2 separate regions of the Homo sapiens genome follow, and region 2 is linked to region 1. Evidence: fine-mapped expression QTL. A gene starts in region 1. The other region holds a variant in brackets. All regions are shown on one strand. Distances are from middle to middle.

Evidence for each region. PIP is the estimated chance that this variant, and not a neighbour inherited with it, causes the effect.
Region 2: its variant is the best candidate, but not a certain one, in a credible set for the expression of BICRAL in whole blood (INTERVAL, PIP 0.85).

What each region holds. Positions count from the first base shown.
Region 1 is chr6:42,779,951-42,785,324 of GRCh38, reverse strand. It overlaps BICRAL (BICRA like chromatin remodeling complex associated protein), which reads right to left and starts at 3,273. Exons shown (of 13, transcript NM_001393499.1): 1 at 3,224-3,273. LOC401261 (a long non-coding RNA gene) reads right to left here and starts at 1,829. Exons shown (of 2, transcript NR_134654.1): 1 at 1-1,829. RefSeq lists enhancers at 1,639-1,708, 1,085-1,774, 1,729-1,918, 1,775-2,464 and a silencer at 1,999-2,338.
Region 2 is chr6:42,856,751-42,862,124 of GRCh38, reverse strand. BICRAL (BICRA like chromatin remodeling complex associated protein) reads right to left here. Exons shown (of 13, transcript NM_001393499.1): 10 at 4,889-5,034; 11 at 1,769-1,863. Among named protein-coding and RNA genes, the nearest start is that of RPL7L1, 20 kb to the left of the region's middle. The variant G/C (reference allele first, on the strand shown) is at 2,258.

The DNA of each region.
Region 1 (5,374 bases):
AGCCTCAAAAGTGCTGGGATTACAGGCATGAGCCACCGTGCCAGGCCTCAAGGCTACGTTTGTTACACAGCTGTCTTGACTAAACTAGATGGCCTGGCTAGACCTAGAAGCCTGTATGTTGTATAACTTCTCAATAGAATGAGACAACATACTTTAAAAAAAAACGTACTGAGATTTTAAAGTCTTAGGATACCTAAACCTTTTTCTCTGAGGAAATAATTTCGATTTGATAAATGGCAGCTACAAGAGGAAAAACAAAAATGAGACTAATGTGAGCAAAAAACTACTGAAACTCAAAATTACATGGACCTCAATTCTCATGTTCCAATTCAAAAAAGAGCAGAACAGTGCATAGCATAGTACAAGACAGTCCAAACGTGTGTCTGTGTCACTGGAATCACCTGGAGAGCTTTGGAATACTAGATCTTTGGATATAGCGGGTGCAGGGTGGGCCAGAATGTCAATATTGAACATCAAGAAGTTGGAGTGCCTGACACATTATTAAAAGACCCAGTTGGCCCTAGCAAATGATGGTGGAAGAGGTGATGTTACAAATCTCTATTTAAAAACATCTCCCAAATTAATTCTGATGCTCACATTTGGAAACCATAGGTGTAGGGGGAAGAATACAGCTTTTGTGATCCAATGGCAACTTTACTACTTAAAACTGCAAGACCTCGAACAATTACTATACTTCTATGAACGTTAGTTCATTCCCCGGTAGACAGATCATAAAATCACTATTTCTGGGCTGATATAATAGAAATTATACAAAGCATCAGGCACAGTTCCTGGCATACAGCAGGTATTCAATATATAATAGGTCTCATTAAATGGTCTAAAACATCCACTATGTATATTTATAAACACAAGGACACACCTACTGGCACCACGGTGTTATTTTTCTACACTAGAAATTAACTATTTACTTTCCATGTATGTGGACTTCTAGAGAGATCAGAGCTTTATAGACCTTTCCCCTCCTCTTTTCAATAATAATGTAAAAGTTAAACCCCTCCCCCATCTCTAATAGATACTACCAACAGATACTTACATGGATGCTTTTAATAATGCAGTTTTGCTTTTTAGAAGAGTTTCAGACTGTTTTAAAGCGTATTTAACTTTTCAGATTAGAGTTCTAAGAAACTGTTTTAATTCACTGCCATTTGAAGTAATATGAAAGCCAACAAAAAAAGTTTCAAAAAACTGGAACCCATCACCTTCCCGTAATCTGACAACTAGTAAATGTCTCCTCAGGGTTGTTTTAGAGTAAAACTAAGAAACGAAGCGTAGGGTACCCACAGAGAACCATGCTACCGGAAGGCAGACAGACAATGTCCTGGACTCTTTTTTTTAGTTTTGTAACCTGGTTGGACTCTACTTTCAATAACTGAAGAATTAAGGAAAAGGCTCAATGCCCTGCCCCCACGCCGGGCCAGAGAAGACAAAGACGTCCACTCTCAGACCGCAGGAGAGAAAATGGCAGGAGCGCCTCACCTCCAATTTCGACTGGGAGGAGTGGGGGTGCGGGGTCAGGGAGGGAACCCATCAGCCGCGAGGCTCGACCCCCAGCCCCCTTCTTCCATCACAAACAAGTGGTTAGGAGGAAGAAGCTGGCCCCAGCCCTTCCCGCTCCGAGCCGGCGGCCTCGTCTTTTGGGTCTGGGGGCGTGGGGAAGGAGAAGGCCGCGCGACCCCAGTCCCATCTCCAGAATTCAGCACCCTGCTCTCGGCTCCCGCTAGCCCCGGGCCTCGCGGCGCCCTGGTCATCGAGATGTCCTCGGAGGGCGCCGCCCGCGCCGCGAGAAAGATGGCGCCCGCCGAGCAACTGCGCCACCAGCCCTGGCGACAGGCCAGGCCCAGCGCCATCTTAGCGCCTTCCAACCGCACCCCCCCACCCAATATCCCGCATTTGGGGCGACTCGGGGGGGCGCGAACAGCATAACGCCCGCGCGCACTCGGCCAAAAATGCGCCGTCCCAGCCGCACATCTCTTCTGGCCGGCGCGGCGAACAGCGCGGGCCTCGCAGGAGACGCCCGGCTGGGCCGCCGGTCCTCCGCGCGGCTGGGGGCTCGGCCGGACGCGGCCGCGGATCCTCGGCGGTGCTTCGAAAAGGCAGCGAGGCGGCTGGGAAGGGGCAGTCCCGCGGCAGGTGCGCGCCGCCGCCGCGGGCTCGGAGCGGGAGCGGGAACGGGGCCGGGGCGACTCGCCTGCCCCGAGCTCTCCCCGCCGCACCCCGGACCTGCTCTCCTCGCCGCGGCCGCCCGCAGATGCGGCGGGAATGGGGAAGCCAGGATGAAAAATAAACCCCGTCTCCGCCGCCTCCCTCCCCACCCTCTCCCCTCCCCCTCCCCAGACGCGGGGTCCATTTTGCCGAGAAGAAAGAAAATGTGATTCACACCCTAGAGCTTCCGAGAGAGAAAAGAAACGAGGGGGGGAAAACAGAGGGGAGGAGATTGGAAAAGCTTATTTTTCTTCCTCGCCCGCCGTCACTCCAGGCCCTCCCTGCCCCCTGCTCGCGGCCCCGCCGCGCCGTCTTCCCCTCGCCGAGCCCTGCTCCCTCCTTCCCGGCTCCCGGCGGCTCCGGGGGGCGGAAAACACACTCACACTCGCGCACACAACTAATTTTAAACCGGCTCAATCAATGAGTCATTAAAAGGCTTCCCTCCCCTCCCCTCCCCACCACCAACCGCCACGCCACCCCCTTCCCGGGCTCTCCCTCTCCCCGCTCCAGAAATTTGCATCCGCGGAAAAGAAAAAAAAGGAAAAAGAAAGGCGCCGGGCCCCCACCCCGCCGAGGCGCCCCCGGCCCGGCCTCGCCGCCCCCTGCCCGCCTGCGCCCCCGCCCGAGACACTGAACTTGGTCTTCCCGGGGCCCCGGCAGCGCTGGGAAAGGCATAAACACTCGATTCCCCTTTTCTCCGTGTCCATTAAACATCCACCCACCACCACCATCACCCACCCACAAACCCACCCCCCCCCAAAAAAAAAAAAAAAACACAGCCTTAGCCAATAGCTCTCTGGGCTGAAACCTAATATCCTGGTTTTGGCAACTCGGTGTTTAATTTGCTCCTTTCTTTTCAGTCTGGAGACAGATCTCCAGCCCCCCCTCCCTCGCTTTTCCCCTCCCCGAAGGAAAGAGGCAGAGGAAGGAGGTTGTGTGTTTTTTTTTTCTCCTTGAAATTTTTATCACAAAATTATAATACACTCAAAGGGAAACTCACCGTCATGAAAAAGCAGTGCCTTGTCAACGGGGTTTCTGCGCCATCGCAACAGGGGCGGCGGCGGCGGCGGCGGCGGGCGCGGGGCCGGGGGCCGGAGCGCGGGAGCTCCCGGCCGAGCGGCGCCGGCCACACGCGCTCCGCTCTCTCTCTCGCTCACCCCCGCGCCGGGCCGGGGCGCCGCTCCCCGCGCCCGCCCGGCCTTCATGCTCTGCGCCCGGGCAAACCGCTCGCCTGCTCGTCTACCTCCAAACTTCGGTTCTCGCCTGGCAAAAAATGTGGAGATTAGGATTTTTTTAATTTAAAAAATTTTTTTTTTTTTTTTTGGAAAATCAAGCTGCAAGGATGTTCATTCGTTTCCTTTGGGATTCTTTTCAACTTCAGAAATGTATTGGTTTATTCAAGAAACAGTTTTATTTGGCTTTAAAACAATTACTAAGATCCACGAGGTGCGTGCTAATTCTCTTGCAGGCTCTCTCTCCACACACACACACACACACACACACACCCACCCACCCACCCAGTTTAACTTGACACGGGAAGGGGGGAGATTAAAGACAAAAAAAAAAAACCCTACAAGATTTGTTTAGAACTCTAATTAGAGCAAGCCTCAGTGAATACGTTTTGCATATGCTTTTTAAAAACCAAAACGACTTTTAACTTAGTTATTAGGCAAATAACTGGTTCATCCTAACTTTCAAATGTACTAAGCTTTCCTTTGCAACACTCTTTGTCCATTCCAAAATTCTTGAAACCTTACCTGTGAAGCCCGTATGTGAACATTAAAAAGGAAAACAAAACTTCAGTGACTAAAAGGAAGGTGAGGCAGAGTAAATCACTCTCAAAACATTCATTTTCTACTGCCTTCTCTTTATGTAGATATCTTTTATCTCTATATTTGCGGAATTTTCATTACATAACCCCCTCATTCTTAAAAGAGAGCTAGTCAATCTTTTAACATTCTTTGGTCCAAGTATAACTACCACCTATTTTTAATCTCAAATCTCAAATTGTTGAAACTTCTCTGTAAACTATCTAGTATCCAAAGTATTTAGATTATGTGGCCCAGGCCGGGCGCGGTGGCTCACGCCTGTAATTCCAACACTTTGGGAGGCCGAGGCGAGTGGATCACCTGAGGTCAGCAGTTCGAGACCAGTCTGGACAACATGGTGAAACCCTGTCTCTACTAAAAATACAAAAATTAGCTGGGCGTGGTGGTGGGCTCCTGTAATCCCAGCTACTCGGGAGGCTGAGGCAGGAGAATCGCTTGAACCCGGGAGACAAAGGTTGCAGTGAGCGGAGATCGCGCATTGCACTCTAGCCTGGGCGACACAGCAAGACTCAAACAAAAACAAAACAAAACAACAACAACAACAACATTACGTGGCCTGGAGTGGGAGCAGGTGCCTTTGTAGTCTAGGTTAACTACAAATGCCCACAAAATATACTAGGGGTTTTGTTGTCTTTTATTTTAAATAAACATCAAGGATAGGTAAAAGGTGAATTGTACAGAATGTAATTCAGGTTTTAAAAAATACATATTAAGCCTAAGAAATGTTATAAATTATTTTAAAATTCATTTGTAATGCATATAGCAATAGGATCCTGCTGATAAACAGAATGCTCAGCTGCTCTGCCTATGGAGTAGCTATTCTCAAATGGCTCAAGCCCATCTCTCCCAGATATTTGGTGAGTTCTCAATAAAACTCTCTCTAGATTAAAATTATTTAAGTGAAATTATTGTATGGCTTCTATATCCCCTTAAGCATTAAAAAAAAATGTAATGGTAGTACACCTTTCTTGCATATATAAGGATACTGTAACTGGACTATGTTGCATAAATTAAATCTGTTGGGGCCGGCATACAATGTTGTCATATTCAACACAGAAGATCTTTTTAGTCAGGGTACAGTGGTTCAAGCCTGTAATCCTAGCCCTTTGGGAGGCTGAGGGAGGAGGATCATTTGAGGTTAGAAGTTTGAGACCAGCCTGGGCAACATGGTGCGAGATCCCATCTCTAAAAAAAAAATTAAAAATTAGCCAGGTATGTGTGGCACATGCCTGTAGTTCCAGCTACTGGGGAGGCTGAGGCAGGACGACTGCTTGAGCCCATAAGTTGGAGGTTGCAGTGAGCTATGGGCAGGCTGACAGAGT
Region 2 (5,374 bases), 77 kb before region 1:
CCTCAGGTGATCCATCCGCCTTGGCCTCCTCAAGTGCTGGGATTACAGGCATGAGCCTCCGCACCTGCCTGAGAACAATTATTACAGACTTTGGTGGCATTATTTTTTATTGTATTTATTTATTTTTAGACAGAGTCTCGCTCTGTCGCCCAGCCTGGAGTGCAGTGGCACAATCTTGGCTCTCTGCAACCTTCACCTCCCAGATTCAAGCAATTCTCCTGTCTCAGCCTCTGGAGTAGATGGCATTACAGGCACGCACCACCACACCCAGACAATTTTTTTATTTTTACAAGAGACAGGGTTTTGCCATGTTGGCCAGGCTGGTCTCAAACTCCTGACCTCAGGTGATCCACCCACCTCGGCCTCCCAAAGTGCTGGGATTACAGGCGTGAGCCACTGTGCCTGGCCTGGTGGCATAATTTTAAGTAAATATAGATATATTTAAGTAAATACAGACACACGGATACACATTTACTCTATGTTGTATATGTGTATAATATAGCTCAACCAATCTCCCAAGGTACATTTTCAAAGTTGATATCAAATTGAAAATGAGTTATAAGAGACCAATTGATAGGTTAAAGCCTATATGATTTTAGAACTGCTTCTCAAATCTCAGGTTCGGTCTTTCTATCATTTTCTGAGGTATCTTATTCTCACTCCTTTCTCTATTTAACTGGCACTTCAAATGAATTGCAGTTTCTATCTGGGATGATCAAAATGTTCTGCAATTAGACAGTGGTGATGACAATATGACCTTGTAAATGTATTAAAAACCATCAAGTTGTACACTTCATTTATTTATTTATTTTTGAGACGGAGTCTCACTCTGTCACCCAGGCTGGAGTACAGTGGTGCGATCTCGGCTCACTGCAACTCTGAACACTGAAATGTTTGTATTTTAGTAGAGACGAGTTTCACCATGTTGGCCAGGCTGGTCTCAAACTCCTGACCTCAGGTGATCCATTATTTTTCATTATTATTATTATTATTTTATTGAGACAGAGTTTCGCTCTTGTTGCCCAGACTGGAGTGCAATGGCATGATCTTGGCTAACTGCAACCTCTGCCTTCCAGCTTCAAGTGATTCTTCCGCCTCAGCCTCCCGAGTAGCTGGGATTACAGGCATGCGCCACCACGCCTAGCTCTTTTTGTATTTTTAGTAGAGAAGGGGTTTCTCCATGTTGGTCAGGCTGGTCTTGAACTCCCGACCTCAGGTGATCCACCCGCCTTGGCCTCCCAAAGTGCTGGGATTACAGGCATAAGCCACCATGCCTGGCCTCAGTTGTACACTTTAAATGTAAATTTTATGGAATGTCAATGATCTCTCAAAAACAAAACTAATTTTGACATTTGTCACCAGCTTATCTGTTCAGATGTGCCTCCAGTCCTTCTCCCACATCTCTGGGTTGGTGAAAGGCGGTAGATGGCATCAGAGTGTGGACCAGGGGTCAGATGATCCTGGCTCGTATCCGAGCTCTGCTAATTACTCTGCAAACTTCTTAGCCATCTGTTCTCGAGCAAGTTACTTAACCAAAGCCCTGGTTTCCTTATCCGTTAAACAAGAGAATAGTACTGACCCACCAAGTAAAGTACAGCAAATGTTCACTGCTGTTTTTGTAGTAGCAGCTAAGCGTAAGTTTTTCTACAGTGTGAAATATCTGTTACTTTTACATTATATTCTATAATTCCTTGACCTTTCTGTCTCTGATTTAGTGGCTGTGACCTGTAAAGTTTTAAAGAACAAATATCAGTAGCATGACTTTTACCATGGCATCTTCTAGGAGCAGGCATCTGTATTTGTTAAGCATAGCTTGGGTCCTTTTTAGGAGCTGAGTGGCAACTGTCTCAAATTCATTGTCCACTTTAAAAAGAGAGAGACAAAGAAATAGTGAGAGACTGTAAATCACTGACTAGGTCTTCTGTTTCTTAAGACTGAAATACATTACTCTTCTGTTATTCAAACATGGCTTATCTGGGGCAATTTTCTCTTCTTAGATGAGCTTTTCCCCGGCTAAGCATCATCCTTCTACACTGCATTCCCTCACTGTCCACTGGTCATGGAAACTCATTTTATTACTAACTCTTTTAACTTTAACTAGGAAACCAAAAACATAATTACTTTGATATCACCTATAAAATAAAACCATATAACAGACTCGCAATAAATATCAATGAGTAGGCCGGGCACGGTGGCTCATGCCTGTAATCCCAGCACTTTGGGAGGCCGAGGTGGGCGGATCACGAGGTCAGGAGAT[G/C]GAGACCATCCTGGCTAACATGGTGAAACCCCATCTCTACTAAAAATACAAAAAAAAAATTAGCTGGGCGTGGTGGCGGGCACCTCTAGTCCCAGCTACTCGAGAGGCTGAGGCAGGAGAATGGCGTGAACCCAGAAGGCGGAGCTTGCAGTGAGCCAAGATCGTGCCACTGCACTCCAGCCTGGGCAACAGAATGAGACTCTGTCTCAAAAAAAAATATATATATATCAATGAGTAGAGAATGATCTGCTAGTTTAGATGACCTAAGCCTAATGGTATGAAAAACTAAAATAGCTGAAACAATGAAGTCCAACTGTCTGGACTAGGTAAACCAGTTTAATGTAAAGACACAGCTTTACATTAAACTGTCATGGTCATGTGGCTCTGTCCTCTGTCTGTTGGTCTCCAAGGATTTGAACACCTTCTAATTCATTCTTCTTCTCAGTCTTCACACCCACTGTGGGTTTTTTTTTTTTGAGACAGAGTCTTGCTCTGTCGCTCAGGCTGGAGTGCAGTGGCGCAATCTCAGCTCACTGCAACCTTCTCCTCCCGGGTTCAAGTGAGTCTCCTGCCTCAGCCTCCCGAGTAGCTGGGACTACAGGTGTGCACCACCATGCCCTTGCTAATTTTTTTGTATTTTTAGTAGAGATGGGGTTTCACCATGTTGGCCAGGATGGTCTCGAACTCCTGACCTCATGATCTGCCCACCTCGGCCTTCCAAAATGCTGGGCTTATAGGCGTGAAGAACCATGCCCAGCCCTTTCACACCCCCTGTTTAACGCTGGATCTTGACCCTATTCCTTGGTGTCCTAGGGAAGCCCACAGTGGACTCACAGAAACCACTGTGCCCTGAGATTAGAGGTCCCTGCCAGGAGGAGTAAGACTTGTAGCAGCTGAGGAAGGGATTAGAAAAGAGGAGGGCACTGATACAGCCAGGCCTTAGCGGTGGTGGTGGGAAAGAGCATGGCCAGGCATCAGGACAGAAGGAGTTCTAGGTTTGGGGAAGGGGCTCTTATCTCTAAATTATTATTTATTTATTTATTTATTTTTTAGATGGAGTTTCGCTCTTGTTGCCCAGGCTGGAGTGCAATGGCACGATCTCGGCTCATGGGAACCTCTGCCTCCCGGGTTCAAGTGATTCTCCTGCCTCAGCCTCCCGAGTAGCTGGAATTACAGGCATGTGCCACCACGCCTGGCTAATTTTGTATTTTTAGTAGACACAGGGTTTCTCCATGTTGGTCAGGCTGGTCTCGAACTCCTGACCTCAGGTGACCCACCCACCTCAGCTTCCCAAAGTGCTGGGATTACAGGTGTGAGACACTGCGCCCAGCCTTTTTTTTTTTTTTTTTTTTAAAACAGAGTCTTGCTCTGTTATCCAGGCTGGAGTGCAGTGGTGCGATGTCCGCTCACTGCAACCTCTGCCTTCCAGGTTCAAACGATTCTCCTGCCTCAGCCTCCCAAGTAGCTGGGACTGAAGGCGTGTGCCACCACGCCCAGCTAATTTTTGTATTTTTAGTAGAGACGGGGTTTCACCATGTTGGCCAGGCTGGTCTTGAACTCCTGACCTCAGGTGATCGGCCTGCCTCAGCCTCCCAAAGTGCTGGGATTACAGACGTGAGCCACTGTGCTCAGCCTTTATCTCTCACATTTTTGTCAGTTTCTTGATGTGTGGCCAATGCTCTGGACTCATTTTGGAATCTTAGGGAATGCTTTTGGGAGCTCAAGTGCCTAATTCATAAAACTATTAGAAACAGTTTGGCCAGGAGTGGTGGCTCATGCCTATAATCCCAGCACTTCCGGAGGCTGAGGCGGGCCAATCACCTGAGGTCAGGAGTTCAAGACCAGCCTGGCCAACATGGTGAAACCCCATCTCTACTAAAAAAATACAAAAATTAGCCAGCCGTGGTGGTGGGCGCCTATAATCTCAGCCACTGGGGAGGCTGAGGCAGGGAGAGTCACTTGAACCTGGGAGGCAGAGGTTGCAGTGAGTTGATCGTGCCACTGCACTCCAACCTGGGTGACAGAGCGAGACTCCATCTCAAAAAAAAAAAAAAAAAAAAAAAAATTCAGGGTATGCATATGGCCTAAAGGCAAGGACTATGCAAAACCACTGTGTAGAGTGTCTAGTGCAAAGCCATCCCATCTGGAGCCGGCAGTCCATACAAAGCTTTGGATTTACTGTCCCTAATTTGTCAATAAAATACTCTGACATTAGGGTACCCTCCTAAAAAATATATATATATATATATATATTTTTTTTTTTTTTTAAGAGACAGTGTCTCCCTATGTTGCCCAGGCAGGAGTGCAATGGCTATTTACAGGCGTGATCATAGCACACTATAGTCTCAAACTCCTGGGCTCACATGATCTTCTTGCTTTAGCCTTCTGAGTAGCTGGGACTACAGGTGTGTGCCCCTACTCTTGACTTCCCTTCAAAAAATACTGAGAAGTGTAAGTCACAACCTTAAACATGGACTGGGAAATTGAGTAAACAGGGAACAAGTTTGGTCTGTGATTAAAAACAATAACCTGCCTACCATCTGGGGGTGATGTGGCTCTTGCTTTTCTGGGGGGTGTCCATGGAGGGTTTCCTGGTATCAGAGTGGTGCCTTAGGGTCCCAGCCTGCTTACCTTTTCTCAAGTCTTCTTCAGTGGGCATGGAGCCCTGGCACACGTGGTAGGAGAGCAGTCTCTGTACCGCATCACTTAGTGATCGGAAGTGACTTTTGTCTGGTGTCACAGTGTGGGCTTGGTCCCTCTGCAACTGCTGGAGAATGCTTTACAAGGGAAATGGTCAATGTCAATGTAAAGTCATGTTAGGAAATTAAATCTAGTCATATTTATTTGCATGCAAATAAAATAAGATATATAGGAATAATACGGCAGTTTTTTAGTTTTATATTTTTTATACCATAGTGGGTTTATAACTTAGTTTAACTAGCCCCACAGAGGACTCAAACTATGACCCTGACCTCAAAAGCACAGGTTCCCACCAATCATTTATGTGTTGGCACCCCTATAAACCTTGGCAGTGCCTGACCATTGGCCAACTAAGTTCATGCTAACATTTCTGTTCTAAACATGGGAGTTTACCAAACCACGCTTTTCCTCAGAGAT